Homo sapiens: one gene and its partners. The protein of the gene in region 3 interacts with the protein of the main gene of each other region in a biochemical or structural test. Each region holds a gene or a part of one and is shown on either strand. Other genes may lie near its edges. The genes, in order: LRP2, SORT1 and LPL.

Region 1 (3,653 bases), on a different chromosome or scaffold from region 3:
GCAGTGGTAAGTCAGTTCACCTCTAAGTCTGTTTACAAAACTGAAAAATGAGAGGGTACCTAGATCACACGTTCCCAAAAATTGGTCCAGCCCTCAGAATCACCTTGAAACTTTTAAAAATACAGATTTTCCACATTTTCTTTATCTAGTCTATCACTGATGGGCATTTGGGTTGGTTGTGGCACATATGCACCATGGAATAATATGCAGCCATAAAAAGGAATGAGTTCATGTCATTTGCAGGGACATGAATGACGCTGGAAGCCATCATTCTCAGCAAACTAACATAGGAACAGAAAACCAAACACCGCATGTTCTCACTCATAAGTGGGAGATGAACAATGAGAACACATGGTCACAGGGGGGGGAACATCACACACAGAGAGGGGAACATCACACACCGGGGCCTGTCAGGGGGTGGGGGCCAAGGGAAGGGAGAGCATTAGGACAAATACCTAATGCATGTGAGCCTTAAAACCTAGATGAAAGGTTGATAGGTACAGCAAACCACCATGGCACATGTATACCTATGTAACAAACCTGCACATTCTGCATATGTATCCCAGAACTGAAAGTAAAATAAAATAAAATTTTTAAAAAACACAGATTTTCATACCCCTGCTTTAGTAAGGGTGAGTTTTGATTTAAGAATCTCTATACTTTTTTAAGTTCCTCAGGTGATTTTGATGATATGTCAAGTTTGGGGAGCTAGCTGACTTTGTCTAGGGTCCTTAGAAATTCTAACAATCTGTAAGTTATTGTGATGAAATAATACTTTTGAGAACATAACTAAAACCTTCTCAAAGTTGGATTCCCCCTGGATAGGATCAAGGAAACACGTAGCCCCATTTGCCCTGGCAGCCATATCAGAATCATATGGGAAGCCAGACCGCACACAAAGGTGAAACTTAGGGGGGAGTAGGGTCAAGGAAAACACAAAGAAAGAGAACTGGAGCCCTGACTGCACCTCGCCTGAACCCCACTCTGCCTCAGTATTTTTTACTCACATAAGCCAAGAAATACCCTTTATTGTGTAGGCCATTTTGAGTTGGGTTTTCTGTTTCTTGCAACAAAAAGTATTCTCCACACCCTTCCCCACATCAAAATTAAACCAGTGTGGAAGTACATGCTAGCATGTATCACCCCCCTTCTAGTGAGATTAAAATGTGGGTAGGATTGCCATATTTCTGATAAAATACTTTCATTCTTAAATTCAACTTTAAGAATTTCCTGACAAAATAAATGATTTCAGCCGGGCATGGTGGCTAGCGCCTATAATCCCAGCACTTTGGGAAGCTGAGGCGGGAGGATCACTTGAGCTCAGGGGTTTGAGGCCAGCCTGAACAACATGGAGAAACCTCATCTCTACAAAAAATATAAAAATTAACTGTGAGTGCTGGTATGTGTCTGTAGTCCCAGCTTCTTGTGGGGTTAAGCGGAGAGGATCTCTTCAGCCTGGGAAGTTGAGGCTGCAGGGAGCCATGCACTCCAGCCTGAGTGATAAAGTGAGACCCTCTCTGGCCTGGGTGATAAAGTAAGACCTTGTCTCAAAAAATAAAAATAAACGATTTTGATTTTTTCAACCTTTACTCAGGAAATTTTCTCCTTGTTAATGACATAAAAACCAAAGAACTGGGCCCAAAGTGACAAGCAAATCACTGACAGTATAAGACAGAATATTTTTATAGAGGAATCCAAGAATGTCCAGCATAACAGAAGTGTAGCTACTTTCCTTTTCGTCTTTTTCAGGTTTCCTCAACACCTTCAAAAGTACACATGCTCTTACTTAATGTGAATCAGTAGATCAGTGAGGAAAGACTTATTTTCAAAGTTACCAGGAATCTTCATGTGTTATTCGCTGATAGTACATAAATTTAAAGGAGACCTTGGATATTGCTTACAAACTTGGATCTCAAGATCTGGACAATAAATGCGCCATTGTATCCATGGTAACAGTGGCTCAACTATTCAATGCACAGAATGGTAATTACATTTCCTCCTTTCATTCATTTCTCACTGTTTCCAGTAACCTTGAGGTCAGGCATGACCTGAGGGCTAATGACCAAAAGTGAAACTTCAAATTGTCTAATCTGTCATTATCTAGGAAAGACTTACATTTCTTTGCACTGAATTTCAGTGCTATCCTAAATCAGAAGTGTCCTAATATAAAAGTTAACCATCTTATTTTTAGAATGATAATGTCTCCATTTTCTCAGCTAATGTGATTAGAGATAAGACTTAAATTAGAGACCAACAAAGTAACCATCAGCAAAGAGTACATATATCTGGCATTTCTGAATTAATCCAATAAGGTGTGATGGATACGTGTTCTACCATTTATGAAAGAAGTCCATAGATGAAGTGCTAAGGACACTCAGATGTGCACCAAGATGTGTTCTGTCTCCACAGAAGCATCTTAACCTGTCTGCAAACTCTTTAAGCTTCTTTCTCTCTACCCCATCCTTATAGCAAAGGACTAGTGCTTGGAAAACAGACAAACTCTTAGGAACATAAACATTGGAGTGAAGTAAATTGGAAAAGGAGTAGGAGCCTAAGATTCACAGAAAAATGAAATACTGCACCAGACTTAAGGGATCCTGTAGTCTGATCGCTCAGCTCATTTTCCAGAACTTTCCTGTCTATCACAAAGCTCTGCTCCAAATAAGAAAACTTTAGGATCCAAATAAACCTTCTAAAAGTCCTTCTTTCTCCTGTTCTCCTTCTAAACTTAAAGTTGCAACATGGTCACATGGGCACAGATCACCATGTCTTTTTTCTTAATGTTTCCAATACTTTATTCCTTTCAATTCTGTAAGTTACCCCAGGGCTGCCAGCTCTTGAGAAATTTCTGTAGCTTTTTCAAGTGTGTCTTCACATACAAAATGAAAATAACATCGTCAGTCAATTTTATCTGATAAGGTATACTGAACACCTGTTATTTTTGCATCCCAGCCTCTGTTCACCATTCTCCCAATAATTACCCCCATTTCTCTCTGGACTCCACCCCTTCATACATGATCTCAAAGACTGAGTATACAGCCCAAGCCTAAGCCATGGGAACACATCATGACCCGGGATTCAGTGGTTGGTTCTCCAATGAGTTTATGACCTAAGTAGAGACCCTGAGATGCAACTGAAACTTTTGCTGGGAATAGCTAAGATAAAAACTCTTTTTCTTTCCCAGTGGATGTGATCTGATAGGAGGTGGCTCCAGAGCCACTGACAGCCGCTTTACATCAAAGGAGAACATGTTTAAGAATGGAGTCATCTCAGAGCCAGGAGACGGAAAAAAGACAAGATTGGCCTGACATAGTTTGAGCCTCCATTTTATATTAGGTTGAACCAAATGAAATTGCCAATATTTGACTATTTCTGCATAGGAAAAAAAATCAATCTCAAATGGATCAACCTAATTATCTGTATCTTTTCAACTATGTATTTATTTTCTTTGAGACAGGGTCTCACTCTGTCGCTGAGGCTGGAGTGCAGTGGCATGATCACAGCTCACTGTAGCCTCGACCTCCTGGGCTCAAGCGATCATCTCACCTCAGCCTCCCAAGTAGCTGGGACCACAAGGGCACACCACCATTCCTGGCTAATTTTTTGTATTTTTTGTAGAGATGGAGTCTCACTATGTTGCCCAGGCTGGTCTC
Region 2 (3,653 bases), on a different chromosome or scaffold from region 3:
ACCACTTTTATTAGTGTGGGAGGCTGTGTCCAAAGCATCCACACCATCCACACCATTGGCCTCTGCATGCTGCTGCAGCACAGAGTATCGATGCACCAGGAACCTGTGAACAGAAACCTCCTTAACACTCGGTGGTACACAGCAGGGGTGCACTTCTTACAGGACTGTGGACTTTCTCAGTTTTATACACTCAGGAACGCATCACAGACACAGAAAGCACAGTCCATGGTTGACATATGAAAAATGTACGACATGAGAAGATTTGGGCCTGATTTTTCAGGAACAGTACTGCAAGTACCTAGTTTTTGCCAAGAGTAGACTCAGCCATATGCCCTAGATCAGCCTTCTGGCTTGAACTCAGTACCTTGGATTGACTTCTGTGTTCCTTACCTTCCCCCACAGACATATTTCTTCACAATGAGCACTCCTGCTACGACTGTGACCAGCATCAATCCCACGATGGCCAGGATAATTGGAACAGAATTTGACTTGGAATTCTTGAGAAATTAAAACACAAACACAAAAGTTTTAGGCATGCATATCCTAGGACTGAGGTCAAGGCAGCCACTCATTCCCCTCATCTCTTTGTGAATGATCTGCAGTCCTGATGCGCTTAATGATGGCTCTTTTCCAACCCCCCAAGATGAACCATCTCAGTGTTACCAGGAGAATATTATAGCTGGCAGAGAGTCATCTTAGCTCCAACTGCCTTGAACCTTCAAATTCTGTGGTTTAAATGTCAAAGTTACACTGGAAGCCTGGGCAACTGCCTAGATCAAGTATGATTGCTTCACACTACCACTGTTCACAAGTCTTGGGGCTTAAGGGTGGAGTAGGAAAGGGAGACTACTGTAACAGTAGGCTGAATGACTCTAGAACAGGGCCATTATCTGGGAAGAAGCTGTGTCAGAAGAACCAGGCAGGCCATTATATGACACCAAGATTTATTTGTTTACTTAATTTTTTATATATTATTATAAATAAGCCTTATCATATCACTGTTTGCATGTGACCTACCTGCTTCTGGGTGGGAAATAGGGAGTGTGTGTTTTCAATGTATCCCAGAGGAGGCAGAGCTGGATTCTAGGACAAGCTGTGTCCCTGTGGGTGGGAGTCCTGTGCAATCACACACACGAACACTCTGAGGAGAGTCACCAGGAGCCCAGGACAAGGGTGCACAGAAGGAGGAACTCGCCCCCTTACCAATACACACACTCACACACTCCTCTCCCATCATCTCCTTAATCCCACCCCTTGTCAGTCCCTCATCCCTTAGAACAGCAGAGAGGAGGGACTGCAGGTGATCCAGCTTGACCTCTCCTATTACGAATTGGGAAACGGGCCTGCTGTTGAGCATCTGAAGTCATGCTGCTGGTCTAGTGTTTCATTATCAAGAGGTTTCCTCTTTACACATCTCCAGTTCCACAGGTAGTTCAGTGCTACAGATTTGGATGCAGCCTCATAACCTTTTTTTTTTTTTTTTTTTTTTAAATTGAGACAGGATCTCACTCTGTCACCCAGGCTGGAGTGCAGTGATATGATCATGGCTCACTGCAGCCTTGACCTCCCAGGCTCAGGTGATTCTCTCCCTTCAGCCTCCTGAGTAGCTGGGACTACAGGCACACACCACCACATCCGGCTAATTTTTGTATTTTTTTTGTAAAGATGGAGTTTCTCCATGTTGCCCAGGCTGCTCTCCAATTCATAGCCTCAACTGATCTCCCCACCTCAGCCTCCCAAAGTGCTGGGACTATACAGGAGTAAGCCACCATGCCCGACAGGTAACTTGCTTCATTTAAATCAAAACCAGCCCATTACCATAGCTCAATTTTTCACTTTGAACATACTTAACATGACTTGGTCAGAGATCCACCCTACCTATTGCCCAGTGCTCTTCTCTTCCACACATGCACAATTCCAGGTCATGGCCCTTCACAGACAACCTTTTTTTTTTGGTACGGAGTCTTGCTCTGTTGCCCAGGTTGGAGTGTAGCAGCACGATCTCGGCTCACTGCAACCTCCACCTCCCAGGTTCACATGATTCTCCTACCTCAGCCTCCCGAGTAACTGGGACTACAGGCGTAAACCACCACACCCAGCTAATTTTTGTAATTTTAATTTTTGTATTTTTAGCAGAGACAGGGTTTCACCATGTTGGACAGCCTGGTCTTGAACTCCTGACCTCAGTGATCTGCCTGCCTTGGACTTCCAAAGTGCTGGGATTACAGGTGTGAGCCACTGTACCCAGCCCACAGACAACCTTTTTGTTTTCCTAAATGACTCTCAGCCTCAGAAATTTCCACAACTGTATGATTTTAAGAATTTTACAACTTTACAGAATATCATCCCCCAACCCTCAATAAGAAAAGAGCTTTCAGTAGGGTGAGCTTATCACTGGGTTACATGACCCATCCTTCATGCTAACAGCTTCCTGTATAAGGGAAGCCTGAGAGAAGTAGTTTGACCACTTTTTATCAGTAACAAAACTCTTGATGCTTTAACTTTGATTTTTCTTAGCAGAACACAAAATCCCATTTGTACCTGAAAACTAGACCTATTTTAACATACCTGTTTTTCCGGACTCAAAAAGTTGCTTGTGCATTTCTTTTTCAAGTCTTTTACTTCTCGAACTGGATTTACCCCACCCTGGCATTTGTCCCCTGGAATTTTCCGGTACCTACCAGGCAAAGAAGATTTGGTAACAGAAGATAAGGATGTATTCCTGGGTACCTGCCTATTTCTTGGAAACAAGATTTGAAAAGCTGCCGAAAAGCTTCCCATCCTTACGTCATGTTTCAGGCCTGGGGGGAATGTCCACAGGGATGTTTTGGGGGATATTTTGTGTAGTTTCAGGCCTTAAGCAAACTAAGCATCTCTGTCCCCTGCTGTCAGAAACATGCCTGTTCTTTCTACCTAAGAGACTGTGCCAAAGAAATCTGACCCCAAAAAAGCTCATTAACAAGTGGTACAAAATGGGAGAGGGGAAGTTATCAGGGGAGCGAGGTAATGAGGCCCGTCTAGAGCAGCACTGTCCAATATGGTGGCTACTTAAAATTGATTAAAACGAAAATTTCAGTTCCTCGGTTACACTAGTGTCCACAGCTATGTGTGGCTAGTGACTATCATATTGGGCACAGCAAATTACAGAACACTTCCATCACCAAAGAAAGTCCTATCAGACAGAGCTCTCCCTGGCTGTGCCTAAACTGTGCCAGACGAGCGATGGACGTTCATGGCGGATGGGACGCTTCTGTCATTCTGCCTGTGGGTCCCTCGCCTCTCCTCCCTTCCTGGGGGTGGTTGGGCGGGAGGCAGGGGTGCAGGATCTGGCCGAGCTTGTTCTCCTGCTCTGCCTCGTGGTGTTGGTGGGGTTGAGTCCTCTGACACCAAGCACTCATGGCTCACCTCCTGTAGTTGACCCTTGAAGGAGGCCTTCATATCCTGCCCCTCCCCAACCCCGCCAAAAATAGTGCTCTAAAGTAGGGCTTGGATCTCAGTGTGGAGAGAAGCAGCTTTCACTCTGAACAAGAACACCTCATCCATCGTGACAAGGGAGAAAAGGCCACCTCACCCATTTGTTGTTAGGTGTTCTTCTCTTCCGTACAGACAAAACTCCAGGTCGTGGCCCTTCAGTTCTGGCTGTTCCACACACT
Region 3 (3,653 bases):
ATTATTCCTTACTCTAAATATCTGTATCACTTTATCATTGAAGGTTAGCCAAGCAATGACAGACTCAGGAAACATTCAGTGGAAGGGACCAGAGGTACATGGTCCAGCCCCTCATTTAACAGGTGAGAAGCCTGAGCCCCAGGGAGGTGATCCCGTTTGCCCATGTTCATTTGCCTGGTCAGCAAAAAAGACAAGAAAAGAACTTTTGTCTTTTATGATCAGTCTAATAAACACAGCTTATTTTTTACTTCCAATTACCTGGTTAAAATAATTTGCCTTGGTCAGAGTATCAGCTTCTTTCCAACCCCAAGATACTTTTCAGAGGTACTTCTCAAGGGATCGTGTGAAAAAGTGGGTCTCTTGCAGCTAAGTCAGAACTCCAGACCTCAGTTCCCTTCTATCCTATGCACCTTCCCTTCCAACATCTTCCTAGCTCAATTCCATCACTCTCCCAATGCTCAACAAAAACGTTCATCCTATTTCACACTAAAGAATAAGTACTATTAATATTTTCATGAAAGAGATTGGTATGTCAAGGTGAGGATAAGATGTCCACAGGCCAGCCAACTGGTAGGGAAGGGTCTGGCTGAACATGCCATCTTTCCTCTGTCCGAAAATCACAAGCTTTTTTCTGTTGGGCCCACTTAGTTATTGGTCTCAGCAGATCTATTCACTGTGAAAATATCAAACGATAGAGCAGGGCAGGACTATTTATTGGCCTTATAGTCTATTCTTATCAAAATGTTGCTTTTGGATATAAAATAATATCCACGCTGATTCTGAAGATTTGAATGCCCCCAGAAAATATTTAAATCTAAGAGAAAAGGAAGAAAGAACAGCCGGTTTTCTGGCTCCAGTCAAAAACACTGTTTTGGACACATAAGTCTCCTTCTCCCAGTCTTACCTCCATCCAGTTGATAAACCGGGCCACATCCTGTCCCACCAGTTTGGTGTAGCCCGCGGACACTGGGTAATGCTCCTGAGCCCGTGACAGCCAGTCCACCACAATGACATTGGAGTCTGGTTCTCTCTTGTACAGGGCGGCCACAAGTTTTGGCACCCAACTCTCATACATTCCTGTTACCTGAAGATGATGACACAAGCTTTCTTAAAATACCCACCTACCACTTGTCATAGATACATCAGCCCAATACACCTGCATGAAATGGAAAAAACAAACTTGATTGGAAACCCATTGGCACAGATAGAAAAATCAAATAACAGAACAGTGTTCAGAGACAGGTCTGTCCCTTCCAAGGCAGATCTAAGTAAGCCAGGAAGGCATTGAGTTGAGTTGAGGAACGGCAGATTGGGGTTCACCATGCTTCCCATTTAAAAAGTATATTTTAGACATTCAATAAAATTTTGATCATTTATACTATTAAAAGGAAAGATTGGTCTGAATGCAAAGTGGGTCTTTGAGGAAACTAGCAGGAGCACCTGGCTAGGAGCAGAACCCTGTTGAATTGGTCCAGTCCCACTCACCTTCGCCTCCCTTCAAGGTTGGGGTGTTGGGCACCCTTTGTAGTTGGCTTTCAAGATCAGGAGAGGTTGATGTCATTTCTTCAGAATGTAATGTTAATGTCTCCCTGTTTCAGCCAGGATCCCCTACTTCACAATGGGAACCCTGTACTTAAAGCCAGTGACATCCAAGCAAGTGGCAAAGCTCCAAGATAGCTGTGTCTAAGCAACCTGCTGGGATGTATCACATGCATGCTACATGCTAAGCATTCCTTTGGGTGTCTCATGACACAGCTGGAGAGCCTCCTCATTTCCCTTCGTCTGTGCCTGTGAGTCCCCAGGCAGCTTATTTCAGATAAGGCAAGAAAATCGGGTTTACTCTAGGCCTCTATCAGAAGTTTTTCTGTACTACCAGTGTTTCTCTTTTCTTTGTTCTTCCTTCCTTTCTTCCTCCCTCCCTTCCTTCCTTCCTTCATTCCTTCCTTCCTTCCTTCATTCCTTCCTTCCTTCCTCCCTCCCTCCTTCCCTTCCTCCTTCCCTTCCTTCCTTTCATTCCTTCCTTTCTTTCCCTCCTTTCTTTCCTTTCTTTTGGCAGAGTCTTACTGTCTCGCCCAGGCTGGAGTGCAGTGGCATGATCTCAGCTCAGTGCAACCTCCGCCTCCTTGGTTCAAGCGATTCTCCTGCCTCAGCCTCCTGAGTAGCTGGGACTACAAGCACATACCACCACACCTGGCTAATTTTTTTGTATTTTTTTAGTAGAGATTGGGTTTCCCCATGTTGGCCAGGTTGGTCTCAAACTCCTGACCTCCAGTGATCTGCCTGCCTTGGCCTCCCAGAGTGCTGGGATCACAGGCATGAGCCACCGCTCCCAGCCCAGTGTTTCCAAGTTAAGCAATCTAAAAAGGCTGGACATCCAACTTACTCCTACAGTGGCTGACATTTTTATTAACCGAACAATAGCTAATTGAATCCTTTCTTTCTGATCAACATAAAATACTGATGTAAGTAATCCCAAACAAAGCAAATGAAAAATCTAAGTACTCACCTTTCTCAACTCAAAAAGGGTCTTATTCTAAGTTCTTTCAATCTGAGTTTTTCTTCTGAGGTTCAATAATTACTATGTTTTAAATCTTTGGTTTTCAGACACGCAGCTGAACTGAAGCCCTCCCTGCTGCCTATACCAGGTGGGCCACCTGACCCTGCCAGTGAGTTCACTGAGATAATCAAGATCAGTGTGGCTGGCTTAGTTCTTGCACAGACCCAACTCAGTCCCACAGCCAGACAGCAGTCTCTGTGCTCAAGCACTCAAAATGTCAGGACACATGATGTGAAAGATACAGGTGGGCTTAGTGAGGCAGTAGGACCAATGATAGGAAGTGGCACCGTCTGTTGATATTGGGTTGGTCATGTCATCTTAGTATGAAAAAGAACCATTTTTTTCCCACAACTTCCCAAAGTATAAAATTCTCTCAGGGATAAGATTGAGATGACTGAGATACTCAATTTATTTCTGTTGTATAAATGCGTTTATTAAGCTCAGATTTTTTGAAAAATTTTAAAATCCAAGTTCTGTATATAACCAAAGGGCCTCTAAAGATTCCTTTTTCTGGGCCAGATGCAGTGGCTCTCGCCTGTCATCCCAACACTTTGGGAGGCCAAGGTGGGTAGATCACTTGAGGTCAGGAGTTCGAGACCAGCCTGGCCAACAGGGTGAAACCCTGCCTGTGCTGAAAATATAAAAATTGGCCGGGTGTGGTGGTGGGCGCCTGTAGTCCCAGCTACTCGGGAGGCTGAGGCAGGAGAATCTCTTATGCCCAGGTGGCGGAGGTTGCAGTGAGCCGAGATCGCGCCACTGCACTCCAGCCTGGGCAATAGAGTGAGCCTCCATCTCAAAAAAGAAAAAGATTCCTTTTTCCTACTTACACCTATTAAAATATTAAAGGATTTATGTTTAGGAATTTGAGATTTTATCACAAAATATTGAATTTACTATGTTAACATAGTAAATGGCTATATTTTGTTAAACATCTGTGTGAATTCTGTTAGTAGTAGTCTCATCTCTATAAAAATTGTAGCGATTGTCCTCTTCAGTCAATAACAAAGCCACTTAAATTATGTAGGAAAAGAAATGTGGACTAGATGAATGTTATTTTTAGTTAGTTCTCACTAGAAATTAGTATTATAATATTCAC

What was found.
Region 1: the proteins of LPL (region 3) and LRP2 form a complex in vitro, tested with the Homo sapiens proteins (one study listed by BioGRID).
Region 2: the proteins of LPL (region 3) and SORT1 interact in a biophysical measurement, tested with the Homo sapiens proteins (one study listed by IntAct).

The regions. Positions count from the first base shown.
Region 1 is NC_000002.12:169,352,459-169,356,111, forward strand, and holds part of LRP2 (low-density lipoprotein receptor-related protein 2 precursor), read right to left. Parts: intron 1-3,653. UniProt on the Homo sapiens protein: Multiligand endocytic receptor. Acts together with CUBN to mediate endocytosis of high-density lipoproteins. Mediates receptor-mediated uptake of polybasic drugs such as aprotinin, aminoglycosides and polymyxin B.
Region 2 is NC_000001.11:109,314,282-109,317,934, forward strand, and holds part of SORT1 (sortilin isoform 1 preproprotein), read right to left. Parts: coding exon 3,572-3,653; intron 2,678-3,571; coding exon 2,569-2,677; intron 498-2,568; coding exon 391-497; intron 104-390; coding exon 1-103.
Region 3 is NC_000008.11:19,949,200-19,952,852, reverse strand, and holds part of LPL (lipoprotein lipase precursor), read right to left. Parts: intron 1,085-3,653; coding exon 905-1,084; intron 1-904. UniProt on the Homo sapiens protein: Key enzyme in triglyceride metabolism.